Linked DNA regions of Homo sapiens. The protein of the gene in region 4 purifies or fractionates together with the protein of the main gene of each other region. This does not show direct contact. Each region holds a gene or a part of one and is shown on either strand. Other genes may lie near its edges.

What was found.
Region 1: the proteins of HMGA2 (region 4) and XPC purify together in Homo sapiens (affinity purification with mass spectrometry; one large-scale study listed by BioGRID and IntAct). This does not show direct contact.
Region 2: the proteins of HMGA2 (region 4) and PARP2 purify together in Homo sapiens (affinity purification with mass spectrometry; one large-scale study listed by BioGRID and IntAct). This does not show direct contact.
Region 3: the proteins of HMGA2 (region 4) and NDUFAF7 purify together in Homo sapiens (affinity purification with mass spectrometry; one large-scale study listed by BioGRID and IntAct). This does not show direct contact.
Region 5: the proteins of HMGA2 (region 4) and TOP3A purify together in Homo sapiens (affinity purification with mass spectrometry; one large-scale study listed by BioGRID and IntAct). This does not show direct contact.
Region 6: the proteins of HMGA2 (region 4) and LIG3 purify together in Homo sapiens (affinity purification with mass spectrometry; one large-scale study listed by BioGRID and IntAct). This does not show direct contact.

Annotation. Positions count from the first base shown.
Region 1 is NC_000003.12:14,158,102-14,161,601, reverse strand, and holds part of XPC (DNA repair protein complementing XP-C cells), read left to right. Parts: intron 1-1,771; coding exon 1,772-1,861; intron 1,862-2,709; coding exon 2,710-3,500. UniProt on the Homo sapiens protein: Involved in global genome nucleotide excision repair (GG-NER) by acting as damage sensing and DNA-binding factor component of the XPC complex. Has only a low DNA repair activity by itself which is stimulated by RAD23B and RAD23A.
Region 2 is NC_000014.9:20,350,135-20,353,634, forward strand, and holds part of PARP2 (poly [ADP-ribose] polymerase 2), read left to right. Parts: intron 1-391; coding exon 392-488; intron 489-912; coding exon 913-988; intron 989-2,110; coding exon 2,111-2,213; intron 2,214-3,500. UniProt on the Homo sapiens protein: Poly-ADP-ribosyltransferase that mediates poly-ADP-ribosylation of proteins and plays a key role in DNA repair.
Region 3 is NC_000002.12:37,238,158-37,241,657, forward strand, and holds part of NDUFAF7 (protein arginine methyltransferase NDUFAF7, mitochondrial), read left to right. Parts: intron 1-3,420; coding exon 3,421-3,500. UniProt on the Homo sapiens protein: Arginine methyltransferase involved in the assembly or stability of mitochondrial NADH:ubiquinone oxidoreductase complex (complex I).
Region 4 is NC_000012.12:65,834,483-65,837,982, forward strand, and holds part of HMGA2 (high mobility group protein HMGI-C), read left to right. Parts: intron 1-3,500.
Region 5 is NC_000017.11:18,308,495-18,311,994, reverse strand, and holds part of TOP3A (DNA topoisomerase 3-alpha), read left to right. Parts: intron 1-3,053; coding exon 3,054-3,113; intron 3,114-3,500. UniProt on the Homo sapiens protein: Releases the supercoiling and torsional tension of DNA introduced during the DNA replication and transcription by transiently cleaving and rejoining one strand of the DNA duplex.
Region 6 is NC_000017.11:34,990,512-34,994,011, forward strand, and holds part of LIG3 (DNA ligase 3 isoform alpha precursor), read left to right. Parts: intron 1-451; coding exon 452-603; intron 604-1,159; coding exon 1,160-1,326; intron 1,327-1,446; coding exon 1,447-1,524; intron 1,525-2,012; coding exon 2,013-2,181; intron 2,182-3,500. UniProt on the Homo sapiens protein: Isoform 3 functions as a heterodimer with DNA-repair protein XRCC1 in the nucleus and can correct defective DNA strand-break repair and sister chromatid exchange following treatment with ionizing radiation and alkylating agents.

The DNA.
Region 1 (3,500 bases), on a different chromosome or scaffold from region 4:
GGTGCGTTTTTCTTTGTCAGTTGAAATGATCCTCTGGATTTTCTTTCCTTCATTCTATTAATGTATATTTAATTGATTGATTTTCTTATGTTGAACCATCCTTGCATTCCTAGGATAAGTACCACTTGGTCATGTTGTATAAGCCTTTTCATATGTTCAATTTGTTTTTTAGTATTTTATTCAGGATTTTTGCATCTATATTCATAAATTGGTTTATTTTCTTGTGATGTATTTGTCTGGCTTTGGTGTCAGGGTAATGCTTGCCTCATAGAACAAGTTAAAAAATATTTCCTCTTCTAACGTTTGAAAGAGTTGGAGAAAGATTGAGGTAAATTCCACTTTAAATATTTGCTAGAATTCACCAGTGAGGTCATCTAGTCCTAGACATTTTCTTTGTTGGGAGGTTTTTGAGTTCTGACTCGATCTGTTATTACAGATCTGTTCAGATTTTCCATTACTTCTTGAGTCAGGTTTGGTCATATATGTATGTTTCTGGGATTTTGTCCATTTTCTCTATGTTATCTAATTTGTAGGGATCGTACAGTTCTGTAACCTGATTTTTTTCCTCAGCAATGTACATTGATAGATTTCTTACTAAAGGTGGTGACTGTGTATGCTTGGGTAGCACTAGACTGTTTCCAGAGTCCTGTCACCTGCATTATCTTGTCTAATCCTCTTTAGAGTCCTGTGAGGAAGCCGAGGCAGGGATTATTCTAGATGCAGAAATCCAGGCTTAGGGAAGTCACTCAGCTAGTGGTGAACACTTAGTTATCCAGACTTCTGGACCTGTGCTCCTGTGCCATGCTGTACAAGAAGAAACTGAGAAATTAATACTGGTACAATGCCATCAGCTAAACTACAGACATTATTTGGATTTTCCACGTTTTCTCACTGATATCCTTTTTCTGTTCCATGATACCAGTTTGTATTTAGTCATCATGTCTCCTTAGTCTCCTCCAGTGTGTGACAGTGTTTTGGGCTTTCCCTGTCTTTCATGACCTTGACACTTTGGAAATTTTTAGCCGCAGAAGAAACAAGGCAAAAGCAATCATTTTTCTCACCATAACAATGGCTTCTCACACCGGACTTTCTCCCGAGGCTGTGGCAGTAATCAAGGAGAGATGCTGGGACCTGGAGACCCGTGTAGGAAGGCCTTGGCCGAGTACATTATCACTGTTGCCATTGGAGTTAAGTCCCCTGAGGGGCTCCCAGACTTCCAAGTTAACAGCTTTCAGAGCTGCAGACTCAGTTAAAGATTCAATGTGGGGAAAATTGGAAAACAGGGAACAGACCTGGTGATCTGACGATAATGATACTTTCTACTTCTTCTTCCCAAAGTGGTATTTCATTTTATTATTTTAGTCACAAACGCAACACATATTGACTACAGAACAATCAGAAGGTAGGTAAGCAGAGAAAAAAAGCATGTAAACACCCATAACCCAGTATATGGATGCTTTTTCAAATATACGTGTATGTCTAAATTTATATATACATATTTTTCTTATAAAAATGTAATCACATCATACTTTTTAAAGGAAAACTTCTATTTTCCTTTAATATATGATGAGCATGTTCCTGTTCTTCTACGAAGATAAACTTCTGCATCATCGTTTTTAACAGTGTCTGGAGTTTCCGTCGCCTACTGTTAGACAGTCTGGCTGTTTCCAGCTTTTCCCTGTCTTGAACAAGCACCATAACAAACAACATTGAACTCATTACATCTTTAATTACTTTCTTAGGATAACTATGTTCTTCCTTTTCATCATAGATATTCTTACTGATTCTCCGGGCTCTGCAGCTCTTGACCCGGCTGGTATTGTCTCTACAGCCAATTCCTCTGAAGTCAGCAACAGCAAAGGTGAGGTGCGCAGGGCTGCCAGAGAAGAGGAGCAATTGACAGGAAATTGTCACACTTAAAAAAATTGATCATTATTATATTTTTTAAGAGCTGGTATTCACGGAGTGTGGGTTCTTTCGAGCCTTGCACATACCCTGTGTTAGGGAAGACTTGGGCATGTGAGTGGGTATCTAGCAGCCTGAACTTCACGTGTGCAGAGTGGCCTGTGAGAGGCCTCGGCCCAGTGCTGCTTTTGTTCTGTTCTGTAAATTGTGTGGAATGGTGCCTGTCCTTGCTTGCTCCGTGGAGTGCTGATGAGTGAAGCACTGTGGATTTTGAGGTGGTCTGGGTTAGCTTCAAGAAGCTAAATGCTGTACTCATTGGGGTATTGGCATTGTCTGAAGCCTGATGGTCTAGAAGCTGATTTTCATAATATCTGTATTCTTAAAACTACAGCTGTATTAAGTCCATAAGTATTTGTTTGCAAAATGCGTATGTCCAAGGTGGGTAGTAGTACTGCTGAGGAAACTGAAACTCGGAGGTTAAGTAATTTACCTAATTTACGTAACCAATAAGAGTTAGAACTGGAATTCAGACCCATGTTTGGCTGTCCAAATCCCATGTTCTTTTCTCTTTACAGTTAGGGTGAAAAGAATTATACTGTGGCCTTATCTAAGATGCTACAGATTTTAGCCAATACATACATACAACCCTGAAGGATAGCTGGTTGATCACTGTCTGAGCTGGGGACATCTTGATGTATTGGTTCTCTAGCTGGTGACTTAACCCTATTAGATTACAGGATTTCTATCATATCATTAGCAAAAGAGGGGGGAGAAAAAAAAGCAAAATTTCTTATTCTGTTTAAGGGAAAGAAACCTTCCAAGGAAAGATTGACTGCGGATCCAGGAGGCTCCTCAGAAACTTCCAGCCAAGTTCTAGAAAACCACACCAAACCAAAGACCAGCAAAGGAACCAAACAAGAGGAAACCTTTGCTAAGGGCACCTGCAGGCCAAGTGCCAAAGGGAAGAGGAACAAGGGAGGCAGAAAGAAACGGAGCAAGCCCTCCTCCAGCGAGGAAGATGAGGGCCCAGGAGACAAGCAGGAGAAGGCAACCCAGCGACGTCCGCATGGCCGGGAGCGGCGGGTGGCCTCCAGGGTGTCTTATAAAGAGGAGAGTGGGAGTGATGAGGCTGGCAGCGGCTCTGATTTTGAGCTCTCCAGTGGAGAAGCCTCTGATCCCTCTGATGAGGATTCCGAACCTGGCCCTCCAAAGCAGAGGAAAGCCCCCGCTCCTCAGAGGACAAAGGCTGGGTCCAAGAGTGCCTCCAGGACCCATCGTGGGAGCCATCGTAAGGACCCAAGCTTGCCAGCGGCATCCTCAAGCTCTTCAAGCAGTAAAAGAGGCAAGAAAATGTGCAGCGATGGTGAGAAGGCAGAAAAAAGAAGCATAGCTGGTATAGACCAGTGGCTAGAGGTGTTCTGTGAGCAGGAGGAAAAGTGGGTATGTGTAGACTGTGTGCACGGTGTGGTGGGCCAGCCTCTGACCTGTTACAAGTACGCCACCAAGCCCATGACCTATGTGGTGGGCATTGACAGTGACGGCTGGGTCCGAGATGTCACACAGAGGTACGACCCAGTCTGGATGACAGTGACCCG
Region 2 (3,500 bases), on a different chromosome or scaffold from region 4:
CCTTTGGAGCATCCAAATTGTTTTCATTTGGGAAATAATTATTGGGAGTGGATTGGGAGCTGGAAAACACATATAGCTTAGAAAATATCTAAATAGGGAGCTGAGGCAGGAAAAAACTGGAGGAGCCATTCAATGTAGGATATTTGAGGTTGGATAGAGGGTTTTAGGAAGCTTCTAGGCTCCCACTTTAATTCCTAAGAATCCAAAGTTTAATGTATAAGCCCTATTTCTTCTTTATATCTTTAATCTTACAGGAATCTAATTTTCTTGCCTGATGCTATCCTTTTCCTTATGGAAATAACTGGCACCTGTGACGAAGGATGAGTCATTGGTTTATGTGATTTCCATTTGCAAAACTCCTTTTTTTTGTTTTTGTTTTCACTCAACATAGACCAATCTCCAGTTCAACAACAACAAGTACTATCTGATTCAGCTATTAGAAGATGATGCCCAGAGGAACTTCAGTGTTTGGATGAGATGGGGCCGAGGTAATGATTTTTATTGAGATTTTATGAGTTGGCATTCAGAAAGTCAGAAGCAGCTTAGTGGGTGGCCAAAGGATTCTCTGGGTTTAAATTGGGTCAGTAGAGGCTCTGAAGTCTGGGAGAGCCTTAGGAATCAAGTTGAGCATCTTGAAATTGGGGAATGGCAGGCATCCTCCTTAGAGTTCCCACTGGAAAAACTAAGAGCAGCCCATTGAGTCTGAAAACTCTTCTATAGTTGAACTGCTAGTAGTGCTCATAGACTATGGCAGTTAGCAAGTAACTTGTATCAACATGATTAGTTCCCTAAATCCTTTCACCTTTCCCTTCTCCCTTTCCTGCCTGTTTGTCAGATGTTAAGCAGAGAGATCTTGGAGAGCTGGCCTGTTACTCTTAGGGAACTATCTTATGTGTGGCATTTCCTTTGCAGTTGGGAAAATGGGACAGCACAGCCTGGTGGCTTGTTCAGGCAATCTCAACAAGGCCAAGGAAATCTTTCAGAAGAAGTGAGTGCTGAAAAGTGACTACAAAAAAATATACCCTCCTCTTCTTAGATGTATATTCTCTAAAAAATTTTTTTTTAGACAGTTTCACTCTTGTTGCCCAGGCTGGAGTGCAATGGCATGATCTGAGCTCACTGCAACCTCCACCTCCTGGGTTTAAGTGATTCTCCTGCCTCAGCCTCCCTAGTAGCTGGGATTACAGGCGCCCACCACCACGCCCAGCTAATTTTTGTATTTTTAATAGAGATGGGGTTTCGCCATGTTGGCCAGGCTGGTCTCGAACCCCTGACCTCAGGTGATCCGCCTGCCTCAGCCTCCCAAAGTGCGGGATTACAGGCGTGAGCCACCGTGCCCTGCCTTCTCTAAGAATTTTATAAGTGTGTGGCTTATAAAAAACTTTTCGTTTTATAGGTGTGATTTGGCCTAAATGTTAATGTCTTTTCACCCTGACATTCTGTGGTTGAAACACCAAACTGCATCCTTAGTGATTAAATCAAACTAATACCTTGAAAGTCACTAAAAACAGAAGAATCTAATATATTTAACACATGACTGACAAATTTAGGAAATTTGGGATAAGTGGAGACTATCCTGGGATAGATAATATTCAACTAGGGGCTGAGCACGGTGATGCCTGTAATCCCAGCACTTTGGGAGGTTGAGGCAGGAGGATTGCTTGAAGCTAGGAGTTTGAGACCAGCCTGGGCAACAAAGCGAGACCCCTGACTCTCCCCCAAAAAAAAGGAAAGAAAAAAAGAGAATATTCAGTTAGAATTTTTAAAACTTTATGATATAGATGAAGAACTTTCTGGAGAATTGGAGAACATGTTTCTTTCAGGGAAAGAGATTAGATGGATATCTTTTGTTTGAAATCTCAATGGCTTTTGTGGTGTTTGGGAAGGACAAGCATTGTTTTTCCCATTTTTTAAATTCCATTTGTCTCCAGAGCTTTTTTGTCCATTTAGTGTCCTCATTTAGAATTAGACTAATTTTGATTTATGGAAAGTTGATGTGTAAAGGAGCTCAGTGCTGGAAAATAAATTCTTTGGAGATTTTCTGTCTTGTAAGTCCATCTTCATAGTAGACCTTTATTTGTAAAGTTTTCTTACACCTTGGACTCTACAGATTCCTTGACAAAACGAAAAACAATTGGGAAGATCGAGAAAAGTTTGAGAAGGTGCCTGGAAAATATGATATGCTACAGATGGACTATGCCACCAATACTCAGGTAACTCTCACTATACTTTTCGAAAGAAACACATCTTCTTTTTTTATTTTATTTTTTAGAGGCAAAACTGTGCTCTGTTGCCCAGGCTGGGTGGCACAATCATGGCTCACTGCAGCCTCAAGATCCTCAGGCTCAAGTGATCCTCCCACCTCAGCCTCCTCAGTATCAGGAACTACAGGCACGTGCCACTCTGCCCAGCTGATTTTTTTTCTTTTTTTTTTGTAAAGATGAGGTTTCACTATGTTGCCCAGGCTGGTCTCGAATTCCTGGGCTCAAGCAGTCCTCTTGTCTTGGCCTCCCAAAGTCCTGAGATTACAAGCATGAGGCACCACACCTACTCCTGTTTCTTCTTACTCAGGGTAAAGCAGAATAGCTTAGATCATTCCTGGACTGGGACAGGCCAGGATATCTTGAATCCTTTCTACTTCTCACCTCAGGGGTGCTCTCACTGATCTTTGTAATCCCAAAGGGACAGTAAGAATGAGGATAGAATGTGCCTTTCTAGTCTTGGCTCTGTTATTTACTAAGGTTCTTTTTTTTTTTTTTGAGCTGGAGTTTGATTCTTGTTGCCCAGGTTGGAGTGCAATGGCTCAGTCTCAGCTCGCTGCAACCTCCAGCTCCCGGGTTCAAGCGATTCTTCTGCCTCAGCCTCTCAGGTAGCTGGGATTACAGGTGCCCGCCACTATGCCCAGCTAATTTTTTTTGTATTTTTAGTAGAGACAGGGTTTCATCATGTTGGCCAGTCTGGTCTTGAACTCGTGACCTTGGGTGATCTACCCGCCTCAGCTTCCCAAAGTGCTGGGATTACAGGCGTGAGCCATCACGCCCGGCCTACTAAGTTTCTTATAAAATCTTAGGCCCTATTTCCAGACGTTTATTGTTTTTTTCGTTTTTTTGTTTTTGTTTTTTTTTGATACGGAGTCTCGCTCTGTCGCCCAGGCTGGAGTGCAGTGGCGCGATCTCGGCTCACTGCACGCTCCGCCTCTGGGTTCACGCCATTCTCCTGCCTCAGCCTCCGGAGTAGCTGGGACTACAGGCGCCCGCCACCACGCCCGGCTAATTTTTTTTTGTATTTTTAGTAGAGACGGGGTTTCACCATGTTAGCCAGGATGGTCTCGATCTCCTGACATCATGATCCGCCCGTCTTGGCCTCCCAAAGTGCTGGGATTACAAGCGTGAGCCACTGCGGCTGGCACCAGAAGTTTATTGTTATGGACCAAGAGAGGAGTGATAAAAAATCAAACTGATTAAACAATTAACATTTAAATTTGTTTTCACTTCTGGATA
Region 3 (3,500 bases), on a different chromosome or scaffold from region 4:
GGCCAGGCATGGTGGCTCAATCCTAGCACTTTGAGAGGCCAAGGTGGGCAGATCACAAGGTCAGGAGTTCGAGACCAGCCTGACCAACATAGTGAAACCCCGTCTCTAGTAAAAATACAAAAATTAGCTGGGCATGGTGGTGTGCATCTGTAATCCAGCTACTCAGGAGGCTGAGGCAGGGAATCGCTTGAACCCAGGAGGCAGAGGTTGCAGTGATTGCTGCAGTGATTGATTGCAGAGCTGAGATTGCGCCATTGCACTCCAGCCTGGTGACAGAGCGAGACTCCGTCTCAAAAAAAAAAAAAAGTTTAGGCTGGGCAAAGTGGCTCATGCCTGTAATCGTAGCACTTTGGGGGGCCAAGGTGGGAGGATTGCTTGAGGCCAAGAGTTCAAGACCAACCTGGCCAACAAAGCAAGACCTCGTCTCTTTTTATATTAAAAAAAAAAAAAGCAGAAGGCATAAAGCAAAAGATTAATATTTCATTTCTTACATTAAAATTAAAAACTTCTTGCTCTACAAATAAACTAGCAGCTTTTTGTTCTTCAGAGACCCCATTAAGAGAGTGATTAGACAAGCCACAGAGTGGGAGAAGTTATTTGTAACACGTAACCAACAGAGAACTAGTAGTTAGAATTATTTAAATAACTCCTTTAGGTCAGTAAGAAGACAGATAACTTGAGAAAAATCAGGCCAAAGATGTGAACAAGTCCATTCATAAAAGAGGAAAATACAAACGGCTAAAAAAGCAAAAAAAAAAAAAAAAAGATTAGTCACATTGGTAGTCAGGAAGATGAAAATTAAAATCACAATGAGATACTACTGTAACCCTTGCCAGATTAGAAAAAAAAGCTAAAAGTCTGTCAACACCAAGTATTGGTGAAGATGTGGATTTGTGGATCAATGGCAACTCTCATATACTGCTTGTAAAACTATAATTTAGTACATCCTTTTTTCTTTCTCTTTTTTTTTTTTTTTTTTGAGACACAGTCTCACTTTGTCACTCAGGCTGGAGTGCAGTGGTACGATCTTGGCTCACTGCAACCTCTGCCTCCCAGGTTCAGGCGATTCTTGTCCCTCAGCCTCTTGAGTAGCAGGGATAATAGGCGTGGATCACTACACCCGGCTAATTTTTTTATTTTTAGTAGAGAAGGGGTTTTACCATGCTGGCCAGGCTGATCTTGAACTCTTGGCTTGAAGTGGTCCGCCTGCCTCGGCCTCCCAGAGTGCTGGGATTACAGGCATGAGCCCCCGTACCCAGCCTTGTACAACCTTTTTGAAAAGCTATTGGCCATTATCTATTAACATCAAAGTTTCTTATATTGTATGACCCAGCAATTTTACTGCTAGTGATATACCCTAGAGAAACTAGTGTATATGTGTACCAGGAGACACATACAAGAAGATAGCAGCATTGTATAAAATAGCGGAAAATAACAGCACAAATGCCCATCGGGGGGTAAATGAATCAGTTAATTGTGGTATAGTCATACAGTGGAATACGAAGTACTGCAAGAATGCGTGAAATCACAGTGGAATATAACAGTGTTCAACATGAAACAAGATGTGTGAAAGTAGCAGTTTGCAAGAGTTCGTATCATATGATTGTATTTATATAAAATCCAAAAAATAGTCAACATTAAACAATATGTATTTGGTGATAAAAATATATTTAGTAACATTTATAAAGAAAAGTCAGGGTGTTATTAACTCAAGATTCAGAATGGTGGTGACTTCCAAGGGTAGAGGGAGTCCACAGGGGCTTTGGAGATAAGGTCATGTCCCATTTATGGTAGATATTCTCTCTTGTATCATTGTTTCTATCAGTCTACGTACTATTTTATGAAAACATTAAAAAGGAGGACAGTTGTTTATAGTACCTGATAAGTAATAGTATTTATTAAACTTTTGTAGTTTTTAGTATTTTGGAACTCATTAGTGTTTTTGAGTTTATTTTATATGTACTTGACAATTCAATGTAAAAAACAAACATGGCTGGGCGCAGTGGCCCATGCCTGTAATCGCAGCACTTTGGGAGTTCGAGGCTCCCAAAGTTCAAGATCAGCTTGGGCAATACGGTGAAACTCCATCTCTACAAAAAATACAAAAATTACCCAGTCGTGGTAGCATGCGTCTGTGGTCGAAGCTAGTTGAGGGGCTGAGATGGGAGGATTGCTTGAGCCCAGGAGGTTGAGGCTGCAGTGAGCTGTGATTATGCCTCTGAGTAACAAAGTGAGACCCTGTCTCAAAAAAAAAACCAAAAAACACCAACACATACTCAATATAAATTTAAATTTCTTGATGCTTTATGGTTTTTGCTTTAAATTAGAAATTAAAGGATTTAAAAAATATATAAAATATATAAACATATGACAAATAAGAATCTTGATTATTTGGGTGAAGAAAGAAAACAAAATCACGAATTTAAATTTCCAGGGCTCTATTTTATGTTTTTCAGCAAGGTCATTTGAATATAAAATATTTAATAAGGACCTCAAATCATATTCTCTTGTTCAAGTACTTTAAAAGTTGATTCCAGAGCCCTTAAAATGTATGAAGGATGCTTTTCCAGACTGAGTCATAAGAAGTCCTAAAAGCCAAAGAATTTAAAGGGTTGTAAAGCAAATAGCCAGAGAAGTGTCAGACCTGTTTTATTTTTGATGTTACCTTCTGAAGGAATTTCTCCTGGGAAGTTTTTCCATTTGTATTTCGATCTCAAAACTAAATTTGGAAAAATCATCTTGTTCATATTATCAGTCTGGATGTGCATATTCATATCTCAAAAGTATTAATTGGAGGCAGATCACCAGTAGAAATTAAATTCAAATGAAAAATAATGTTGATACACTTTATGCTTTTGCTATTGATTTTTTAGCCTTAAAAGATTGGTAAAATATTAGTATTTTCCTTTTTCCCTTGCATGTTTACAACAGTGAAAAAATGTGTAGCTAAATATAGATTGAAAATGTGGCAGACCCCCGAGTTAAGCAGTCAGGTTTTCAGTACCATTCAGATTTGGTTCTTTGAGGTTAGAGTTCTCATCATCTCAAAGATGAGATTACTTCCTAGACCTAGAGATGTTATCAAATCAAGGCTGTGTACATTTTATTTCCTTGGTCTTTTTTTAGACTCCATAATCTGAATCATTGTTTTTATCAGATGCCAAATCTTTTATTTTCATTTGTTAATCATAATTTATCATTAGGAAACCAAATTGTGCATTGTTCATTTCTTATTTAGATTATGCTTAATAACTAGTAGGTTAGGATTCTTATAGACTGCTGGAGAGTGGCTTGGGTAAGGAACACATCTCTCTGAAATATTACCTCTATTGTGACATGACTAAATCATTGATGTAAATGATTAGGAAACTTAAAACCTACTTAACACATTGTATTTTTTTTTCTTCTTTTGGTATTTAGGTGTTCACTCAACTTGGATCTGTGCTGAAAAATTGTGACATTTCAGTACATCTGGTAGAGGTAAGCCAAAAATTAAGTGA
Region 4 (3,500 bases):
TAAACACTTTTCCTTCCTTTCCTCTTGCCCTCCCTCCCTCCCTTCTTCCTCCTTCCTTTTTTTCCTTCCTTCCTTCTTTCCTTCCCTCCCTCACTCCCTCCCTTCCTCCCTTCCTCCCTCCCTCCCTCCGTTCCTCCCTGCCTCTCTCTTTGCCTCCCTCCTTCCCTTCCTTCAACAAGTATATAGTGAACACCTCCTGTACACGAGGCACTAGTGCTAAGCACTGTTTTCAAGCTCAAGAGATGTATTTGCTAGTGAATTTCTTTCCTAATTAGTTTTTAAAATATGCAGTACATTGAAGAGCCTGGAGTACAGAACTTCTTAGAGAAAGAAATAATTATATTTCCCATTTAACATTTCTCCTAATCTTCATGGACTTGCTTCTAAATATATCATAAAATTAAGTGTACAGTTTTGAATCTGAAGTTTAAAACATAAAAATATTAATGAGGGCAAACAAGGGAGAAATGACACTTTTAATGAGATATGATTGTTGTAAATATTCGCATAATAGTGCTGGTAACAGTCTGAAATTTCAGTTCTTACCAATGAGAATTCCGACCATATCTCCCTTTTCTCTCTTGATGTGAGCAATAAATAGTGAGAATTAGTTATGCCTCTGTTATACATGGGTTTGTAGTATAAAGCCAAATTCTATTCTGGCAAAGGAAAACCAAATATACACTTCTACAGTATTGCATATGTTAAAACAAAACAAGCCTCCTGAATGTTTTGTTTGTCTTTTTTGAAAAATAATATCCTGAAGAGCATTAAACACAGGAAAACAATATTAAAGCTGATGTTTTCCAATATGTAAAAATCCTGGATCTAAGCTGGTTTACAAACTAAAACCCTAACTTGTTTTGCAGCCTTTGTGGAGTTTGATTAGAATGATTAAATAATGTGGGTTTTAAAGAACAATGAAAACCTCCCAGATTGACGCCACACAGCACAGCTAATGTGTTTCTTCTAGATGTAGTCTCAGAAGAGGGTTTCAGTTTACATGTAACACTGGCCTGAACGACCAAGGAGCAAGTTTGCTTTTAACAAGTCCGAGTGATAATCGTGATATTTTGCCCTTTAGTTAATGGTGCAAATTTTATTTCTCAATAGGCTTTTTGTAAATGAGATGCTCATTTAAAAGTCATCTTATTTGCAGGGCTTTTTCTGTTTTTGAGAGATTTGCTTTCTCTGATTTTGAAATACAGTGAAACTCTTTCAGAAAAAAAACCTCTCTCTTCAATAGATTTTAGATACACCCAGATCACATCATGGCCCCTGAAACATAACAACCGTGCAGAAAAAGCCTGGTGTAGCACTGTTAACTTCTAAGGTCAATAGGCTCCTTCTCCCACCCTGACTTCACACCCCCTTTTCAATAAAAAGGATTTCTATTTTCCATGTTTGTGTAATTTACTACTGGGTTAACTGTGCAATCTTACAGTTGCTTCCAAAGATTAAGTCAGATGCTGCTTCTGTGCTAGAGAACTCCACACTCATGTATAACTCACTATGCAATAGCCAAAGGGATCCTTAAAAGCCTCATTCTAAAGGTGACAGATGGGTGTGAAGGAATACTTGCATTGACCAAGGCTTCTGTGAGAGGAAACTAACTTGAAGAAAAACTCCCTTTCTGGGAGGCAGAGGCGGGCGGATTACGAGGTCAGGAGATCGAGACCATCCTGGCTAACATGGTGAAACCCCGTCTCTACTAAAAATACAAAAAATTAGCCGGGTGTGGTGGCAGGCGCCTGTAGTCCCAGCTACTTGAGAGGCTGAGGCAGGAGAATGGAGTGAACCCGGGAGGCGCAGCTTGCAGTGAGCAGAGACCGCGTCACTGCACTCCAGCCTGGGCGACAGAGCGAGACTCCGTCTCAAAAAGAAAAAAAAAAAAAAAGAAAAACTCCCTTTAAGGGTTCCATCTAGTTAGGAGTGAAAGAACACTTATGGAGCACCTCATGGGAGGCAGGAACTTCTAAGTACTTCTAGGAATGATGTCTCACAGGAGGAGTCATCTCCATTGCACGGATGAAACCAAATTGAGGTCTTCAAGGACCTGCCCAAAGTCATAAAGCTAAAATGGAAGAGCAGGAATTGGAATCTAAGCGTTCCAAGGTAGAGTCTGTGATCTTCTCAGGGCACCTCCCTCTCCATGAGGCAATGCTCTGAAGAGGGTATTATTTACTTGACACTCTGGGCTTTCGCTAAATTCATGCCCTTGGGACTGAAGGTAAGACAATGCCACTAACCTCTGACAACAAATGATTCCTTTGTGGAGCCATTCAAAAGTGATAATAAACAATGATTCAGAGTGTCCAAATCAGATGGTTAGATAGAACCCCTAAAGGCTACCAGGTTTTCTTTTGTCCTGGGAAATTAACTGAATCAGTGACAATTTTAGTTTCCTAAAGTATTTTTTTATGGTAGCAAATGCTTGTATACTACCGGGTAGTAGCATTGTTAAGAGGCTAGGAGCACAGTCTTTACAGTTAGACAAAACTGGGTTCAAATCCCAGGTCTGCCACTTACCTGCTTTGTTTGTGACCTTGAGCCAGTTGTATACCTAACCTATCTAAGACTTAGTTGTTCATCTACAAAATAAGAGGAATAATAATACCCACTTTATAAGGCTGCTGTAAGGATTAACGTAACACATGTGACTGACAATCGAGTGCCTGGGATATTTTAAATGCTCAATATTTGTGAGTTAACATTACAGTCATATAGAGTTTGCGTTAATTCATGGGACCTGTTGGATAGTAATGCCAGATCAGGGAGATACTATTTGGTGAGAAATGTTGTGGCTTATTTTATCTCTCATCTACCTGTCTGTCTATCTGCCTATCCATCTATCTGTTTGTCAACTATCATGTAAAGCTATTTGTTTTTACCAGGCAGATTGAAGAGAAAAAGAGGAAAGTTTCATTTGGCAGTGTAGACAGTCAATATCACTGTACCAAGTACCCCCACCGGCTGCTAACTCAGATAACAAAAGTAAAATGTGGAACAAGGTATCCTGGTTCAAGTTACCTGTATTTGTGTGTTAATATAGCCATGGATGATTCTTATACATGAAACAATATGTACTAAGTTTTCTTTATCCTAAAAAGCAGGAACACGTTTTTATAGATGTATGTGATATGTGTGTGTATTGGTGTGTTGTTGTGTATGAAGATTGGACTAGGGCTGACAAAAACGGAAAAACTAATTGCTTTATAAATAATGTTAACAACTGTGATATCAGAAAAATCTTCTGTGAAGTAAAGCAATGAAATAAACTCTCAAGATAGAAATGTATTCATGTTAAGTGTGGGATTATGGTTAATAAAGTACATTTTTAATTAATCATTATTTCTAGGCACATATAGTTTTAATCACTGGGACAAACTGATGATTTCTGCCTGCTTTTTTTTCCTCTGCTTTAGGTGAACTGATTGACAGGTGATTGTTTCAGGCAAGGAACATTAAATTAAACATGTAGAAGTGTGCAAATATTTGTT
Region 5 (3,500 bases), on a different chromosome or scaffold from region 4:
ATGGGATTTACCACCTTTTTGGCCTACTGCTGCTCCATGACAACAGGGGCCAGGGCCACTTCTTCCCCTTGGCCATCTTTCCTTTTGGCATCTGGGGCGGCTAGAGGAGAGAGGCTGCTGAAATGTCTCATCTTCAAGGAATCCTTCCCTCACCACCTGTTCCCCCACACTAGGTCAGAGACCCTTACTGACATGCTGTCATAGCACTCTATTCTACTTGAAAGGCATCTACTAGTTACAGTTAAATAATGGGATGTGCGATCATTTATTTGATTTTTGTCACTGCCTCTCCTTGGACTCTAAACTCCAAAGGACAGTGATTATATTTTGTTAATTGCTATGTCCTAACGCCTAATATGGTGTCTGGAATGCAGGAAACTTTCAATAAATATTAATACTTGGGCTGAGCGCAGCGGCTCATGCCTGTAATCCCAGCAGTTGGGGAGGCTCAAGCGGGCAGACCACCTGAGGTCGTGAGTTCAAGACCAGCCTGGCCAACATGGCAAAACCCCATCTCTACTAAAAATACAAAAATTAGCCAGGTGTGGTGGCGGGGTCCTGTAATCCCAGCTACTCACGAGGCTGAGGCAGGAGAATCGCTTCAACCCGGGAAGTGGAGCTTGCAGTGAGCCTAGATTGCGCCATTACATTACAGCCTGGGCGACAGAGTGAGACTCCATCTCAAAAAAAAATTAGGCCAGGCATGGTGGCTCATACCTGTAATCCCAGCACTCTGGGAGGCTGAGGTGGGCGGATCATGAGGTCAAGAGATTGAGACCATCCTGGCTAACACGGTGAAACCCTGTCTCTACTAAAAATACAAAAAATTAGCCGGGCATGCTGGCAGACGCCTGTAGTCCCAGCTACTCGGGAGGCTGAGGCAGCAGAATGGCATGAACCCGGGAGGTGGAGCTTGCAGTGAGCCGAGATTGTGCCACTGCACTCCAGCCTGGGCAACAGAGTGAGACTCTGTCTCAAAAAAAAAAAAAAAAATTCATAGTTGTTGAATGCATGTTTGAGCTGAGCCTGAAAGTTTTACCAGGCAGTAGAAACTGTAAAGAACAACCTAGTGGCTTGAAACTGCTTGGCATATTCAGAAACAGTGAGAAGTTAGGGGTGTGGTGTGGTGGGAAGAGACACCGATGAGTTAAGCAAGAGCAGCAGTTGAGTGCAGATCATAAGAATCTTAGAGAGCCATGTAGGTTGAGTGGTAAAATGCACAGAAAATTGACCATTTTAATCATTTTGAAGTATATAGTTCAGTGGAATTTTGTCCACTAAATGTGCCACCATCATCATTATCTAGTTCCAGAAGGTTTTTTTTCACCCCAAGAGGAAGCCTCATATCCATTAAGCAGTCACTCCCCTTACCCTCTCCTCAGCCCCTCACAACCACGAATCTGCCTTCTTTCCCCATGGATTTGCCTGTTCTGGGCATTTCCTATAAGTGGACCCATATCTTACATGCTCTTTTGTGTCAGGTTTCTTTCACTTAACATAATCTTGAAGTCCATCCATGTTGTACCATGTATTAATATCAGTTCTTCATTCCTTTTTTTTGGTTTTTGAGAAGGAGTCTCTCTCACTGTCGCTCAGGCTGGAGTGCAGTGATGAGATCTCGGCTCATTGTAACCACCGCCTCCCAGGTTCAAGCGATTCTCCTGCCTCAGCCTCCCAAGTAGCTGGGATTACAGGCACCCACCACCACGCCCAGCTAATTTTTTGTATTTTTAGTAGAGACAGGGTTTCACTATGTTGGCCAGGCTGGTCTCAAACTCCTGACCTCATGATCCGCCCACCTCAGCCTCCCAAAGTGCTGGAATTACAGGCATGAGCCATTGCACCTGGCCTCTTCATTCCTTTTTATGGCTGAATAATATTCTATCATATGGATAGATCATATTTCATTTTACCATACATCAGTTGATGGACATTTGGGTTGTTTTCATCTTTTGACTATTGTGAATAGAACTTCTATAGACATTCGCTGGGCGTGGTGGCTCACACCTGTAATCCCAGCACTTTGGGAGGCCGAGGCAGGTGGATCACGAGGTCAGGAGATTGAGAACATTCTGGCTAACACGGTGAAACCCCATCTCTACTAAAAATACAAAAAAATTAGCCGGGCGTGGTGGCAGGTGCCTGTAGTCCCAGCTACTCGGGAGGCTGAGGCAGGAGAATGGTGTGAACCCGGGAGGTGGAGCTTGCAGTGAGCCGAGATCACGCCACTGGACTCCAGCCTGGGCGACAGAGCCAGACTCCATCTCAAAAAAAAAAAAAAAAAAGAACTTCTATAGACTTTCATGTACAAGTTTTTGTTTGAATGTGTTTTTTTGTTTGTTTTTTGTTTTTTGAGACAGTCTCGCTCTGTCACCCAGGCTAGAGTGCAGTGGCGCCATCTCCACTCACTGCAACGTCCACCTCCTGGGCTCAAGTGATTCTCCTGCCTCAGCCTCCCCAAGTAACTGGGATTACAGGCACACACCACCACACCTGGCCAATTGTTGTATTTTTAGTAGAGATGGGGTTTCACCATGTTGGCCAGGCTGGTCTCGGACTCCTGACCTAAAGTGATCCAACTGTCTCAGCCTCCCAAAGTGTATTTGAATGCGTTTTTAATTCTTTTGGGTAAATTTGTAGGAGTGGAATTGCTGTGACATGTGATAACTCTGTAACTTTTTGAGGAAACACCAACATTTTCCAGAGTGGCCAAAGCATTTTACATTTCCACTGACAATGTCCAATTTCTCCACATCCTCAACAACACTTGTTATTTTACTTGTTTTTTTTATTATTCTATTTAATTATTATCCTAATGGGTATGGAGTGGTACCTCATCATGGTTTTGATTTGTGTTTTCCTAATGATTAATAACATTGAGCATCTTTTCATATGCTTGTTGGCCATTTCTTATCTTCTTTGGAGCAATGTTGGTTATATTTTTGGTATCATAACCAAGAAATCATTGCCAAATTCAGGATCAGAAAGAATTATACAAAGGAATCCATTGTTTTAAACGTAATTTATATTTTTTACTTATTTTTGTTTTATAGAGAGAAGGACTTTCAAAATTCAACAAGATCTATGAATTTGATTATCATCTGTATGGCCAGGTAGGTGCTAAAATATTTCTAAAATATTTCAATCATAAGCAAGAGAAAGTAGTCAGCCTCGTCATATGTAGAATATGTCGCTGTCTTAAGAATAACAACTGTTAACAACCTAAAGGTTCCTGGATATGGGGTGATCACTTTATAATTTATGAGGAGTTCTCTTTTTAATAAAATATGGTCCCATCTCAGCTCTTCATTACAAAAAAAAAAAGCTAATATACAATAGTTTGAGGAAAATTTAACTGATGCAAGAGGCGTCAGTTATACACCATATCATTAGAATGGTGATTGTATTCCTGTGACTTTTGGCTTTGAAGAGCTTATATTTATGTTTATTTCTTCCCAATCAGGTTTTTAAAAATGTCTTTAATAGAAGCTCCTCCCTCT
Region 6 (3,500 bases), on a different chromosome or scaffold from region 4:
TCAATTAATCTGCCTACCTCAACCTGCTAAAGTGCTGGGATCACAGGCGTGAGCCACCATGCGCGGTCTGAGTTTATTTTTTTATTTATTTTTGTGTGTGTGTGTGAGACAGTGTCTTGCTCTGTCGCCCAGGCTGGAGTACAGTGGTGTGATCACAGCTCACTATAGCCTCGACCTCCTGAGCTAAAGCAACCCTCCTGTCTTCTCCTGCAAGTAGCTGGAACCATAGGCATATGCCACCATGTCCAGCTAATTTTTTAATTTTTTGTAGAGATGGGGTCTTTCTTTGTTGCCAGGGTGGTCTCAAACTTGTGAGCTTAAGCAATTCTCCTGCTTCGGCCTCCCAAAGTGCTGAGATTACAGGTGTGAGCCACCTTGCCCAGCCTTCTTTGAGTTTATATATTTATTTGTTTAAGCTCTATTTCTCAAGAAGGGTTCCTTCTGTCTCCAGATGGTTTCCACGGTGATGTGTACCTAACAGTGAAGCTGCTGCTGCCAGGAGTCATTAAGACTGTTTACAACTTGAACGATAAGCAGATTGTGAAGCTTTTCAGTCGCATTTTTAACTGCAACCCAGATGATATGGCACGGGACCTAGAGCAGGTCAGAGGAACGGGAGGGAGGGTAGGCTACATTCCAGGTGGGGTTTTGCCAAGCCAGGCACCTGCAGCCTCTTTTTTTTTTTCTGGTTGGGACACATACTGTTTTAGGAAACTGAAACCCATTTGAGCAAGCTTCCGTTATAGGGGGAGCTGAATGTGAGGCTATAGCTCTTAATTTCTTAAGTTTCTGAGGGTGGAAACCATACAACTGCTGAACCACAAAGGCCTGGTTCTCAAAAGGCAGAATTTGAGACTTGCCCCCTCTGTCTCTCCTGGGGCTTTTATTCTGGACTCTTTTTTTCTTGCTTGTTTTCTCCTATAACTTGGCTTTACCAAGCTTTGGTTTGTCCGTGACTCTATCCCTGGTACCATGGCAAGTTTCCATCCCCTTCTAGGAATTGTGGATGGGCTAGTGTCTCTAAGAAGTGGGCTAGATATGTTGAGTTGGGATAGGAGCTATGATTGAAATTTCTTGATTCATCTTCAGTCCTGGGTCTTGGGGGATACACTTGGCCACCCTAGGGTTGCAGCAGTGGCATTTTGGTTTTTGGAGACAGGGTGACGTGTCAGAGACAATCAGAGTCTTCTTTGAGCAGAGCAAGTCTTTCCCCCCAGCTGCCAAGAGCCTCCTTACCATCCAGGAAGTGGATGAGTTCCTTCTGCGGCTGTCCAAGCTCACCAAGGAGGATGAGCAGCAACAGGCCCTACAGGACATTGCCTCCAGGTGGGGGAGCTGCCTCCGTCAAACCATGCCCATAGAGAGATGAACTCTCTTGGGAAGGGAAGGTTCCCTTGGGGTTCCAGAGCTCTTCAAGACCAAGTTAAATGTGCTTCATCCCCCTAGGTGTACAGCCAATGACCTTAAATGCATCATCAGGTTGATCAAACATGATCTGAAGATGAACTCAGGTGCAAAACATGTGTAAGTAGCAGCTCCGCTGACAGCCTGAGCTGTCATTTGTTAGCTTTGTTTGTTCCCAACTGGTGTCAGGACTTTTGAGTCCCAGTCAGGATTTGAATCCCCCTTCCACCTTCTTACTTTCTGTGAGACCCTGATCTGTCACTTGACCTGTCTCTGCCTCCATTTTTTCCCATATAAAATGGAGATAACAGTACCTTTCTCACAGAGTTCTTACAGTTGAAGTGTGGCATACGTTCAGTGAGTATAGTATGAGTCTCTTGCCTACTCCAGCCCCCTCCTCGCTAAGGCGGCATCCACATAGGCACAGTATCTCAAAAGAGCTGAATTTTCCAAGAGCTTTCTCTCCTCTTGTGAAAGTCTTTAGACAATAGAACACAACCCCTTCCCTACAGATGAGGATTTCTTCTGTGAGGACAGATTGCTGTCCAAAGCCATGGAGTCAAACAAAGGCAGTGGTTTTGTTTCCTTGTTCCTGTACCCCTTGGCAGGTTAGACGCCCTTGACCCCAATGCCTATGAAGCCTTCAAAGCCTCGCGCAACCTGCAGGATGTGGTGGAGCGGGTCCTTCACAACGCGCAGGAGGTGGAGAAGGAGCCGGGCCAGAGACGAGCTCTGAGCGTCCAGGCCTCGCTGATGACACCTGTGCAGCCCATGTTGGTGAGGAGTGCTCCCCTGCCTCTGCTTTCCAGCCTCTCCAAGCTCCACATCCTTTGGGCTGAGATCAGATAGGGTATGAGTGTTGAGAGCACTTGCAAATTGACTGGAGAAGTTTAGGGAAGGAAGAGGGAGGTGCAAGGGGGTATTTCTCTGTAGGAGGCGAAGGCAAAGGAGAAGACAGAGGATCTAGTGGAAAGACCTGAGTTGTAGGCCCAGCTACGCCACCAAGATGCTGTAGAATCTTAGATGAGTGACTTGCCTCTCTTGTCCTTCAGTCTCCTGTGTGGATGACGTCTGAGACTGCCTGAGGCATCCCCCTAGAATGATTTATCTGTTATCTTACCTGAAGACGGATGTATTAAGTAACCCCTGAGATTCTGTGACCTACTGCAAAGTAGATCTGAGAGTTGGTAGCAGAGCCAGGCTTCCTGTGACAGGGTGACTTGGGAAGAGGGAGGACACATAAGGAATGAAGGCTGACTCTGACAGACATCATCTTAGGCCTCTGCTCATTTCGTAAGAAATGGGGTTTCCTTTCCAGTGTTGGTTTTCCTGTGTGACAGGGCCCACCACATATGGTGCCATGCCTACTGTGAGATTCTTTGGATTTTTGAGTGATGTACAGTGCTTTTTTTGAAACTGTCTTGTTTGTCATACTAAAACCTTGGTTTAGGGTTTTATGTTTGAGATAGGCAAGTGTTCTCTCCCTGCTAGGAATGTGGGATAGCCAGCATCAAAACAGTGAGATCTCCATCCCAGAGATGGGACTGCGGCCACCTGCAGTAGTGGCCTTTCTGACTTTTATAAAAATGCCTCCTGGAGTCTGTTCTATAGTTTGTCATTTAAAGACTGGCATGGGTTATATAGCTTAGTGGTTAACCACACAGGTTTTATAGGTGGGCCTAGATTCAAATCTCATTCTTGCCATTTTTTAGTGTAACTTAAGCAAGCACCTATTCTCTCTAACCTTCAGTTTTATCATCCAAAAATGAAAACAATATTTGTCACATAGGATGTCACATCGGGGATGAAATGAGATTATGTATGTGAAGCGCTCCCAAAATGGTAGCTATTGTTGTTTGAGTTAGGCTAGCACAGGTAGGCATGTAAGTAGGTGCTCCAATATCTGGAAACCCTGTTTGTTGTAGGGACCCACGATCACTCACCCTGCCAGCCTCACTGTCACCTGCACTCTTTAACCTTAGCTTCACATACCTCTTTTACTGGGAGAACTGATGTGTTTTATAATAAGCCAGAGGTCTTGCAAGGCCTGAATTATTGAGAAAAGAATTAAATCTTGTTTCACTGGGCTTTTACTT